Linked DNA regions of Homo sapiens. The protein of the gene in region 1 purifies or fractionates together with the protein of each later gene. This does not show direct contact. Each region holds a gene or a part of one and is shown on either strand. Other genes may lie near its edges. The genes, in order: MESP2, SLC25A15 and ACSL1.

The links.
Region 2: the proteins of MESP2 (region 1) and SLC25A15 purify together in Homo sapiens (affinity purification with mass spectrometry; one large-scale study listed by BioGRID and IntAct). This does not show direct contact.
Region 3: the proteins of MESP2 (region 1) and ACSL1 purify together in Homo sapiens (affinity purification with mass spectrometry; one large-scale study listed by BioGRID and IntAct). This does not show direct contact.

The regions. Positions count from the first base shown.
Region 1 is NC_000015.10:89,775,027-89,779,262, reverse strand, and holds MESP2 (mesoderm posterior protein 2), read right to left. Parts: upstream 2,932-4,236; 5' UTR 2,906-2,931; coding exon 1,982-2,905; intron 1,199-1,981; coding exon 929-1,198; 3' UTR 509-928; downstream 1-508. UniProt on the Homo sapiens protein: Transcription factor with important role in somitogenesis. Defines the rostrocaudal patterning of the somite by participating in distinct Notch pathways. Also regulates the FGF signaling pathway. Specifies the rostral half of the somites.
Region 2 is NC_000013.11:40,799,589-40,803,235, reverse strand, and holds part of SLC25A15 (mitochondrial ornithine transporter 1), read right to left. Parts: exon of another isoform or gene 2,512-3,647; intron 1-2,511.
Region 3 is NC_000004.12:184,819,421-184,823,067, forward strand, and holds part of ACSL1 (long-chain-fatty-acid--CoA ligase 1), read right to left. Parts: intron 1-3,647. UniProt on the Homo sapiens protein: Catalyzes the conversion of long-chain fatty acids to their active form acyl-CoAs for both synthesis of cellular lipids, and degradation via beta-oxidation. Preferentially uses palmitoleate, oleate and linoleate.

The DNA.
Region 1 (4,236 bases):
TGCACTCAGCCCGTGGCATTCTAGTATGGCAGCCCTCGCAAACTAATACACTGGGCCTAGCACGTAGGAACCACTCCCAGTATTCTTTGAAGAAAATTTCATGTCATTGTGAAAGAGCCCTAAATGACAGGTCTCTGGGACTGTGGTCTCCCCATTTGGGGCTCCTGTCTGTCTGTCCACAGCTGCATGCACCCACCCCAGCAGTCACCAGGAATGCACCCGAAGAACACAAAAGGGCAGTGGTGATGTGGCTGAGGCAAGTGGGCAGGCCCAAGCTTAGCCCACCTGTGCTACCTTGCACAGCAAGCCAGGTGGAGCTTTTGGCCCTGGAGCTCCAGTGCAATAAATATGGTCAAACTGACAAATGAGGGCCCACCCAAACCTTGGCAGGCCTGGATTAGAGAAGGAAAGAGCAGCAGAACTTGTTCCCCACAGAAGGAAAACATGTTTCCTTTTCCAGAGGCAAGAAAAACCCAGGTTGATGAACAAAAAACAAGGCCAAACCAAATTTTTGTTGTGTGTGTGTGTTTTTTCTTTTTAAGTACAAAAAAATCAAAGCATACAGGGCTCTGGCCAACTGTCACCAAGAAGCAGAGCCTGGGGCCTGCCTCCTACACCCATTCTCCCACCTGTCCCTGCCCAGCTGCCTTTAGGGTAAAGGAGACCCCTTCTTAGAGCAGCTCAGACTGTGCTCTGCAGAGCGCCAGGCATTCTGGGGGTGTCTAGCAGTGGAGGACAGTGCCCCCGCCCTGACTCCATCCAGGGAAGGTACCCGCTATCTATTTCAAACACTGCTTCCCTGAAAGACATCACTTGGAAAAAGGGAGCCTTGGCTAAAGGAGAACATGAAAAGCCACTAATTAACAAATAAGGAGGCACCCAAGCTACAGGACTGATTCCTGGATGGAAAGAGGGAAGCCGAGGCCATTTAGTAGAAGATGCCCAGGCGGGCCCCCTCCAGATCTTCTTGCCAAAGTTCAGGGCAGCCACTGAACCGCAGGCCTGAGCTCTGGGGAGGGCTTGCTTCACTGAGCTGGAAGGCGGCGCCCGGTCCCTGGTCCTCTGAGTTGGGCACCACCTCTGCACTGTGGCTCCAGCACCTCCCGGGGGTCTGAGGCTGCAGTCTCTGGCATGATGGGTGGGGCAGGAGAGATGGAGCTCCCAGCGACAGACAGGGCTCTGGAGACACAGAGAGACCCTGCAAGAGAGATGAGAGCAGCCTGGTTAGTGGGCTACTCCCTGATATCCAGAGATCTTGAATCTGGCTGGTTGCCATGGTATGGCTGGCAGCATCCGGACAGCCCTGGTGCCATGAATGCAGCAAAGCCAAGTGGTTAAGAGGACTGGCTCGGGAGACACTCTGCTAAGGCTTAAATCCCAGTTCTGCTACTCACTAGTAATGAGAACTCAGGTAGCTTCTTTTAGTCTCAGTTTTCTCACCTGTAAAATAGAGATGCTGATAATACCTACTTCCTAGGGTCATTACTGGGGCTGAATAATACATGTAAGGTGCCAAGAATGATGATGGGCACATAGAAAGTGTTCAACAAATTTTGGTTAATATGATTTTTTATGGACGATGAGTCATTCATGAGCCTCATGAATGAACGAATCTTGAAGAAAACTTGAAATCACCAGCTCTAGGCCCATCTACTCAGGAAATGCTGCCCTTACCCTGGGACTTCCTTCCCCCACTGCAGTCTTAATAGCACTTGAAGCCAGCACGCCCACCCTGCTACTTTCCACCCTCTGAGAAAGTCGGCGGGCTCCCCCTCTTTCCCATGGCTGTGAAGACTGCTTGTGGTGACTGTGGAGATGGCCTTAACTTCCCAGGGTCCCATCTCTTCTCCCACGGAGCCGGGGGTTCCTTCCATTCTCCCCTCCGTTAGATAATCCTGGAGTAGATAAGCTGGGATCGAAAAAGTACGAGATTCTCTGCAGACTGGAGGCTGGGGAACACAGCAAGGGCCTCCACACATACCTGGTACACTGCGGCCAGCTCCAAAGTTGCTGGGGCCGCCGTCCAGGGCACTGGTGGGTTCCGGGGCTCTGGGGACGACTGCGTCCAGGGACAGCCTTGGGGTGGCGTCCAAAGAGACGCGTCGGAGGTTGTCCCTTGGGACGAATACGGGGGCGACTGTATCTTGGGGCAGTAAGGGGGTGTTGCCCAGGGATCCGTGTCGTGGACCCCCCTCCCCAGGCGCTCGGGTGCGGCTTGGGCTCCGGGGCAGGCGGACGGGGATCCCCAGGACGCCTCGGCGAGGACGGCGGAGACCAGGCCCGGCCTGCGCCCCTGCCCTTGCCCCTGTCCTTGCCCCTGTCCTTGCCCCTGCCCTTGCCCCTGCCCCTGCCCCTGCCCTTGCCCCTGCCCCTCCGCCTGCGTCTGCGCCTCTGCGGGGCCACGGTCGGGGCACAGCGGGCAGCCCCAAGGGGACCCCGCGTCCCCGCGCTGCCTGCGCCGGCACTGCAGACTCTCCTCGCTGAGACCCAGCACGGCCGATAGGTGGCCGATGTAGCGGATGGCCAGGCGCAGCGTCTCGATCTTGGTCAGGCTCTGGCCGGCCGGCGCCAAGGAGGGAGGCAGAAAGCGGCGCAACTCGTGCAGGGCGCGGGCCAGCGTGCGCATGCGCAGTTTCTCCCGCTCGCTGGCGCTCTGCCGCTGTCCGCCCGCTGGTCCGGTGCGCGCTCGTCTGGGCGTCGTCGCGGCTGCCTCTGCGGCTCGGGAGCTGCAGCTCGGAGGCTGTGGCTGCGGGAGTCCGCGGGCGCCGTCGCAGGGGCACGAACCCGACGAATCGGAGGAGGAGGCCGGGGACGTGGAGTCCCAGTGGCCGGCCCAGCCCCAGCCCTGGGCGAAGATCCAGTGGTCGTGGCCGAGGAGGCTCTGCGGAGGAGGCGACTGGGCCATGGCCGGGCTGCAGGCTCTGGGAGGCTGGGTTGGCCACCTCCAGGCCTGAGCTTTTATGTTGACCAAAGGTGCGAGGTGGCCCCCCGCCAGGTTGCAGAGAGGTGTCAAAACCCACAGAGCCCAGGGAAAGTCTGGGCAGGGGGCCCCTGGGAAAGCGGGCCCATTTGCGGAGGTGTGGATTCTGACTCCTTGGGGGCTCTAAATGGAGGCCCCTGCAGCCCGGGAAGTATGGGAGGGACAATTCGCATCTGGATGGAGCTGCTAAGCTTCTCACCACGCTCCCACCCACGCCCCTGCCCCGTCCACTGCTCACGGTGAGTGCCCGGGAGCCCAACAGAGGCGGGTAGTGCCATGGTCTGTGGGTGCCTCAGGGACCCCGTGAGGAGTGGGTGCCTCTCTCATCACTAACCTCCCGGAGGTCTGTGCCCAGGACGCTGTGCCTACTGTTGTATTAAATAAGGCATCAAGACAAGCCCGGAGGGCCCTGCCCATGGTGGCTGAGGAAGAAGTGCAGGTGGGCCCTTCTGGGGTCCCCAAAATCCACAGTTTCTGATTTGTTGAGTGACACACCAAGAAAGGCATCTCACTGCCCATGGTCTGTATCTACTCTTGAGAAATGGAATAGATTAGGTTGGGGAAGAGGAGTTGGGTACCCTAGGTGATGAAAACCGGCGAAAATGGGTCCCCAAGCCGGCCTCTTTATTGGCTGTGACCTTGGTTAAGTTATTTAGCTCCTCTGAGCCTCAGATTCCCTCATCGGTACCAATAGTGATACAAAATACCTATGCCTAGGATGGTTCCTGGACTAAGTACAGCGATCCCTGTAAAGCACTTAGGCCCTGGCAAGTGAGCTGAAGGTTTGCCATGATCGTTTTATAAAGAAGGTACTGGCCAGGCATGGTGGCTGATGCCTGTAATCCCAGCACTTTGGGAGGCCGAGGTGGATGGATCACCTGAGGTCATAAGTTCGAGACCAGCCTGGCCAACATGCTGAAACCCTGTCTCTACTAAAAATACAAAAACCAGCCGAGTGTGGTGGCAGGCACCTGTAATCCCAGCTACTCGGGAGGCTGAGGCAGGAGAATCGCTTGAACCCGGGAGGCGGAGGTTGCAGTGAGCTGAGATCGTGCCACTGCACTCCAGCCTGGGCGAGTGCGAGACTCCGTCTCAAAAATAAATAAATAAGTAAATAAATAAATAAATAAATAAAATAAAAGGAAAGTACTTAGATTTCAAGGCACTAATGGACTTTATTCATTTAATTCATATTTATTTATTTATTCTCTTTTTTTTGTTTTTGAAACAGACTTGGTCTATCGTCCAGGCTGGAG
Region 2 (3,647 bases), on another chromosome or scaffold:
CAAAAAAAAAAAAACGAATACGGGGAAAAGTCTGAGAAGTGTTTCAGAAGAAAGGCTTCTCTGCGAGTTCCTGGTTCATGGGAGTTGGGATAGAAGATCCCTTCCAGCCCTAGAAGAGTGTTGTGTCATGGGATCATGACTGGCATTTGGGGGTAGGACAATCCTTCATTGGGCAGGAAGGACTGAACTGGTTCCCTGACACCCATTCAATGCCAGCATCATGCTCTCACTGGACAGCCAAGATCACCCTCAGAGATTTCCAAAAACCCCTAAGGGTGGGTGGGAATCTCCTCAGCTAACTACTCAGGTAGAGATATAATCCCCTAACAATTTTTCTCCAAACTGTGAGCAAAAGCACAGATGGGGCAGGGCACGGTGGCTCACACCTGTAATCCCAGCACTTTGGGAGGCCGAGGTGGGCAGATCACGAGGTCAAGAGATCAAGACCATCCTGGCCAACATGGTGAAACCCCATCTCTACTAAAATACAAAAATTAGCTGGGCATGGTGGTGGGCGCCTGTAGTCCCAGCTACTCGGGAGGCTGAGGCAGGAGAATTGCTTGAACTGGGGAGGCGAGGTTGCAATGAGTTAAGATTGCGCCACTGCACTCCAGCCTGGGCGACAGAGTGAGACTCCGTCTCAAAAAAAAAAAAAAAGCACAGATGGACTTACCATATTCAGGGGTACTCAAGTTTTTCCAGTGTTAAAGATTAGTATAAAATCAAGGTGGCACCAGTCTTGGCCCTGGTTTGCTAGTCCCTGGTGGTCTAGCTTCTGTACCATGGCCAGAGGCAACTCTTTCAGAAGACTTGGCTTAGAGTGGAGCTTTCTTTCAGTAGGAAGACACTGTTTGCAGTAAGGACTTCCTTTTGATGTTAGAGAATTAAGCCTAAAACCATTAGCAAAGGAGAACCAGGTACACAAATGTACTTGCACACGCTTTTATGGGGTGTGGAAACCATCCAATGCTGTTCAGTCCACTCCTTTCCCCCACTTCACTCCTTAGCAGCTTGTTAGAACTGAAGCTTAAAATGGTTTCTGTTGTCTTGCAGCCAGCCTGCAGATCCACAGTTGGCCTCCCTCAGGGACTCTCTGTTAACCTGTTGACAGGCAATAGTCAATTAGGAGCATTAACCAGGATCTGCCAAGTTTGCCAGGACAAAGGTGGCAGTCAATAAATGTAGAAGTCTATTGAGTTTAAGATATAATAATGGCTCAGACATCTGAATGAACACCAAGCACATTATTATAGTGCAAGGACACAGTCAAATCAGATATGCAGTGGACTTTGGCTTTCCAATAAATACTTTCATTGACCAGTGCACAGAAGGAGGTGCATGGGCCCCTGGTTCTGCATGTAGTATGAATGTGTAGAACTGGAATTGAAACAGTAATAGGTATAGGATGGGATTTTGTAAGAATCATCCATTTGTCATATGTTCAACAAACATGTACCTGAGCACTCCTGCTATGTAAGACCCTGTCCAGCCAAACGTCAAACTAGAACATTCTGGGTCATGTTGAAACCGGGAACAGACAAATATTTACAATGTGATTGCAGAAATTCACCACAGGCTCTCACAAGCAGTTCTTTCCTTTCACTGCTCCTGATTAATCTTCTCTCTAGAACTGACCCTTATAAAATATTCCAGACCCCCAACTGTGGTCTGATGGAAAGGAGACTGGGCAGGAGCTCAGAGGACACAATTTCAAGTCCTTAGCGGGGTGACCTTGAGCAGGTCAACATCGGCACCTCAGTTTTCCATCCCTAAGAGAGGTAACATCTGCCTTGCTCTTCTCACAGGATCACGGTGAGGGCTATAGAGACATGATATACATGTCAGAGCTTTGTAGACTCTAAGAGAGCATTTCCCCAACAGGTAAGAGGCAAACACTGTTCCTCAGGATGGAAAAAAAAAACGGGCCCAAGCTCAAAAAAGATGAGTGCTGGATTAGACAAGGTTAATCAGGATGGTTTCTTTTCTTTTCTTTTTTTTTTTTTTTTGAGAGACACAGTCTCGCTCTGTTGCCCAGGCTGGAGTGCAGTGGCATCATCTCACTGCAACCTCTGCCTCCTGAGCTCAAGCAATCCTCCCACCTCAGCCTCCCTGGTAGCTGGGACCACAGACATGTGCTACCACACTCAGCTAAGTTTTGTATTTTTTGTAGTGACGGGGTTTTGCCATGTTGCTCAGGTTGGTCTCAAACTCCTGGGCTCAAGTAATCTGCCCACCTCAGCCTCTCAAAGTGCTGGGACTACAGGCGTGAGCCACTGTGCCCAGCCTTACGCATCTTTAATGAACTAAATAACACATACACTATATGAAATAAATGTACCCAGAGTGATTCTTCACGAGAGAGACACTGTGACGTAATTTCCCAACCCTTTCTTAAGGACACCCAGCAATTCAATGTTCTGAAAGCAGTGTGGGAAAATGCAGCTGTAAGGTATTAGATTGTTCTCAGCAGAAAAGCAATATGCTCTTACCTGTCCTTCACTTTGTTCACAGGCTAAGGAAGCAAGAAAGTGGAGGGGCGGGCAGAGCCAGATCCAGTGGTTTCACTCATGCAAGACAGAAGTCACTGTCTATCCTGTGGCTGGAGGGGCTACTTTGCTCAGAAGACACAGGTCTTCCCCAGAATCTCACGTGGCTGCTTACTGTTTCCCTGTCTTCTCTCCCCATTTTGTCCTTTGCTAAGGAAACTGAACTGAATTCCAGGTCTTCTCTAATAGAGTGTCTCTCCTTCAACAGGGAACAAAACTACAGTTGCCTGTAGTTTTTGCTTCTGTTCAGTCTCCATCATGGCATGCCATACTCTCCTGGTTTGTGCCCTGCTTGTTTCTTTACTGCCTTCCTGCCTGCCCTTTCTGTGCTGGAGGCTCATCCCATTCATGCTCAGCCCTCCTCGCTGTCTACACTGTCTTCTTGGGCAATCGTATCTAGTCCCAAGCCTTTTTAAAAAACAAGCTCTACCCATCATGGTGGAATTCCTGTCTATAAAAGGGCACACCTTCAGACCTCCAGGCACCTCCAGAGAACAGTGCTGTGCACAAGAAACCGAATTCAGTTGTGTGGGACCTGCAGCTGCAATCAGGTTTCAAACTCCTACTGAAATAACTAAGACTGCCCTTTGCAATCTTGAAGCTTATATAATAATTTTAAGTGGTATAAAATAAATCAACATTCAAAGCAGGGATAGCTAAACATCCCAGTGGTTTCCAAATTCTGTTTAGTCTCTATATAATAAATACCCAAGGCAAGACCAACAAAGAGGCAAAGTCTGATGTTTTGGGAAGATTTGGACAGAGAAAGGTGGGTTCCCTTGCATCTTCGCAGACATTTCCGACCCTTCCTAAAACTCCTCAAGTTCATCTGGCTCAGACAACCTCTTCCAATACTCTGCTTTTTGCTAATGAAAGAAAAGCTAAATCTTGGATCATAAGCAGCATCTACAGTTTCAGTGCAGCATGTCTGCTGACGAGAGGTAGCACTGCCAGCTGCATCTGAACAGCATTCTCCTGGAGAAAACTGAAACAGAAGGGCGGTTCATTCTCAGTGGTGGATGATGAGCAGGTCTCCTCTGTGGTGTGCATATGTGGTTTCTAAGTTTTATATGATGACAATGTATAACTTCATAAATAAAA
Region 3 (3,647 bases), on another chromosome or scaffold:
GCGTGAGCTACCACACCCAGCCTAGATGTACTCAACACAAACTTTATCCCAGCAAAAGCACAGACTTGAGTCTAGAGATTTTCAGTGTCTTGATCTTAGCTATAGGATCAAAGACACCATCGGACCAGGACACAGGAAGGTCAGTCAGGCAGATGACAGCACCCAGGTACAGTGTCTTGGGTACACAGACCCATTAACCCCATGCCGCCAGAGTTTGCTTTCTAGAAGCCTCAGGATATGGTGGTTTGGAGAGGAGTGGAGATAGCAGGTAGGAAGCAAGCTGCAGAAGCCCCTGACAGGCAAGGTAAGTAAACACCTGGAGCCTTATGGAGGGGAGCCTGGAAGGCTTCTGCTTAGGAGGGATTTGATCAGAGCTGTGATTTAGAAAAAGCAACCATCCCCCTCTGCACCCTGCCCCTCTTCCTAACAAAGGCCTTCACTGTTTAAATTGGAGGTGACAATTCTGGTTCACGATGGCAATACTGAGAAGGCAAGGAGGAAATGCATGTGTGTTGGGTAATACTGCACAGAGAGGGTCAGAATAAGCAGAACTGCTGACTGACTGGACTTCAGGGCAGAAACCAAGGGCAATACCGACGTCCAGCCATTCTTTGAACAGGCACAGGGCCCGGGAACAAACTCCACACGTGTGCATGGCCAGAGGGTCAGGCAGGTTGTGTTACCTTGGCCAAGTCACCCCCCTCCGATCCCTGCAGACTCCCAAGTAGCTGGGACTACAGGTGCCCACCACCATGCCTGGCTAATTTTTTGTATTTTTAGTAGAGACAGGGTTGCACCGTGTTAGCCAGGATGGTCTTGATCTCCTGACCTCATGATCCGCCCACCTCGGCCTCCCAAAGTGCTGGGATTACAGGCGTGAGCCACTGCACCCGGCCAGTCATGCGTCTCAATTGTTCTCCAGCCTTACAAGACCAATGTCCAGGGCAGGCAAAGCCTTTTATTTTTTAATTCTCTAGAAAGTCACAGCTACATAGCAAGTGATCTTATCACTCCCTGAGCCACGCTGAATCAAAATTTGTGGTCTCTTTCAGCACTCTAGTGGTATAAAGAGATAATTCAAGGCAGAGTGTAAATGAGATGGGGGTAAAATCAAGGAGCAGTGACACCGAAGGAGACCCAGCTCTGTCCTTCCTGTCTTACTGCCAGCTGTATAACCTGGAACTTTCTTTTTTTTTCTTTTGGAGACAGAGTCTCACTCTGTCACCCAGGCTGGAGTGCTGTGGCGCAATCTTGGCTCACTGCAGCCTCCGCCTCCTGGGTTCATGCGATTCTCCTGCCTCAACCTCCCGAGCAGCTGAGACTACAGGCACGTACCACCACGCCCAGTTAATTTTTGTATTTTTAGTAGAGACGGGGTTTCACCATATTGGTCAGGGTGATCCACCCGCCTCGGCCTCCCAAAATGCTGGGATTACAGGCGTGAGCCACCGCACCTGGCCTAACCTGGAACTTTCTAGGCCCTCCTGGAGTGAGAACTTCTAGCTCTGGAGGGGCAGTAGAGCCCAGCAATTAGGAGCACAGACCCTGAAGCCAGACTGCCTAGGTTCAAATTCTGGTATGGGGAACTTAATCTTTGCACCTGTTCCTTTATCTTGTGTACAGTAAGGATAGCAGCAGGACCTACCTTACAGGGTTGCTGAAGGTACTAATGAGTTAACCCATCAGAAGCTTAGCAGCACCTGGCTCTGTCTGCTGCTCTCATCACTGCTCTGTTCCTAAGCCTGGCCGTGTCCAGGCTGTGGCTACCACCTCGGTCAGCTACCACAGCCCTGCTTTGTGGCAGACACCTGGACCCTGAAGGAGAAACTAGCTCCGGAAGCACTTTCTCATGACTCTGCTTAATAAAGGAATAAATAGTATTCAGAGTGTTTCAGTCCTTCTTATATGGACATTTCTCCCACAACAAACCTAAGGGGAAAGTGCCCATTTCTATAGCAGCCAAAGCTGTGCTAATGGATAGAGCCTACATTTATCAGAAGTCCCCTCCAGAATGAGGAAATGGTCTACAGGCAGGCCCCGTTTCCTCCTCTGATGCCCTAACTTCTTTCCATTTCTCTTTCCAAACCATGAAATCCCTATTTCAACTGCTTTTGACTAGAATACATGAACCCAAAAGTCCATTAAACCTATTCATTAGTAAAAACACTTTTCAAATTATTGTTAATTTCAAGAGTTTTAAAGCAGAACATTTTTTATTTTTTAAAGACGTATTTAAACATATAACAAAGGTTGGTAAACTGTTCTGAAAAATATCCAACAAATGGGGAGAAGTAACTAAATTATGGCCCATACAGCAAATAATGCAGTCATCTTCAGAACTTATTTTTTGAAGAATATGTAACAACGTGTAAAAAAGCCCACAATATAACTTAGGTGATAAAGTTAAATTGTCAAAATTGTAATCTTTAATTAACAATGTATGCTTAAAATTTGTTTATTGTATAGGGAAAAAAGACTGGAAGGAAATATAACAAAATGTTAATAGTATTTAATCTCTGGAAGAGCTTCATTTTTCCTATTTCCCAAATTTTCTCCAGTAAGTATGTATGACTCTTAAAATATGAAAAACAAATACAGCTTTTCTGTGGCAAGTGGTTTTTAGATATTAGACAGCTTTCAGAATTTTATTTAAACTTGAAGACCAGCAAATAATTCATAAAGAGAATCAGCCCAGGCACCTATATGGAACCACCAGTTTTGAGATTTTATTTTATTGTTTTTACTTTTTTTTTTCTAGAGATGGGGTCTTGCTCTGTTGCCCAGGCTGGTCTTGAACTCCTGGCCTCAAGCAACAAGCTATTTGCCTCCAGATGATCACATCCTTCTAAGGCAGGCAGCACAGGGGAGCAGGGCCCTTACTCACCTCCACTTAAGTTTTTGTCCAAGGGTGACACCCTCCAAGCCAGCCACACTTCAAGGAGTCTCCAATATTTCACCCGCCCCTCTTGATTCCTCAAAGGTCATAAGTGAATCAATACTGTGTTGTTTCTAACACAGTCAAGAACATGAAAGTGGGCTGGGTGCAGTGGCTCACGCCTGTAATCCTAGCACTTTGGGGAGGCCAAGGAGGGCAAATCGCTTGAGCCCAGGAGTTCGAGACAACTGGGCAATATGGCAAAACCGCTTCACTACGAAAAAAATACAAAAATTAGCTGGGCATAGTGATGTGCGCCTGTAGTCTAAGCTACTGGAGAGGCTGAAGTGGGAGGATCAACTGAGCCCAGGGAGGTGGAGAGGCTGCAACGAGCCATGATCATGCCTGTACTCCAACCTGGGCGACAGAGTGAGACCTTATCTGGGAAAAAAGAAAAAAAAAAGAAAGTGAAAATGTCATGATGTAGAAAATGAACATAACTCAGATTATGTGATAGTTTTCTCTTCTTGCCATTATATACAACCCAAGGCTTGCCACAAACTGAAATTTCTTATGCATTGACATTCAGCATTTGATGTAAAATGACAATCTTAGAGTCGCTGCCACAAACCCTGGTAAAACTGCCCCTGCCTTCTCCAGTTCACTAAGTTCAGCTACTCCTTCAGGGCTTGTGCTCCTTTAAAACTTTTCAGAAGCCCCTTGAAGTACCAACATGTTGAAACTCAAACTCAACTGCCTGCAGCTTCAGATC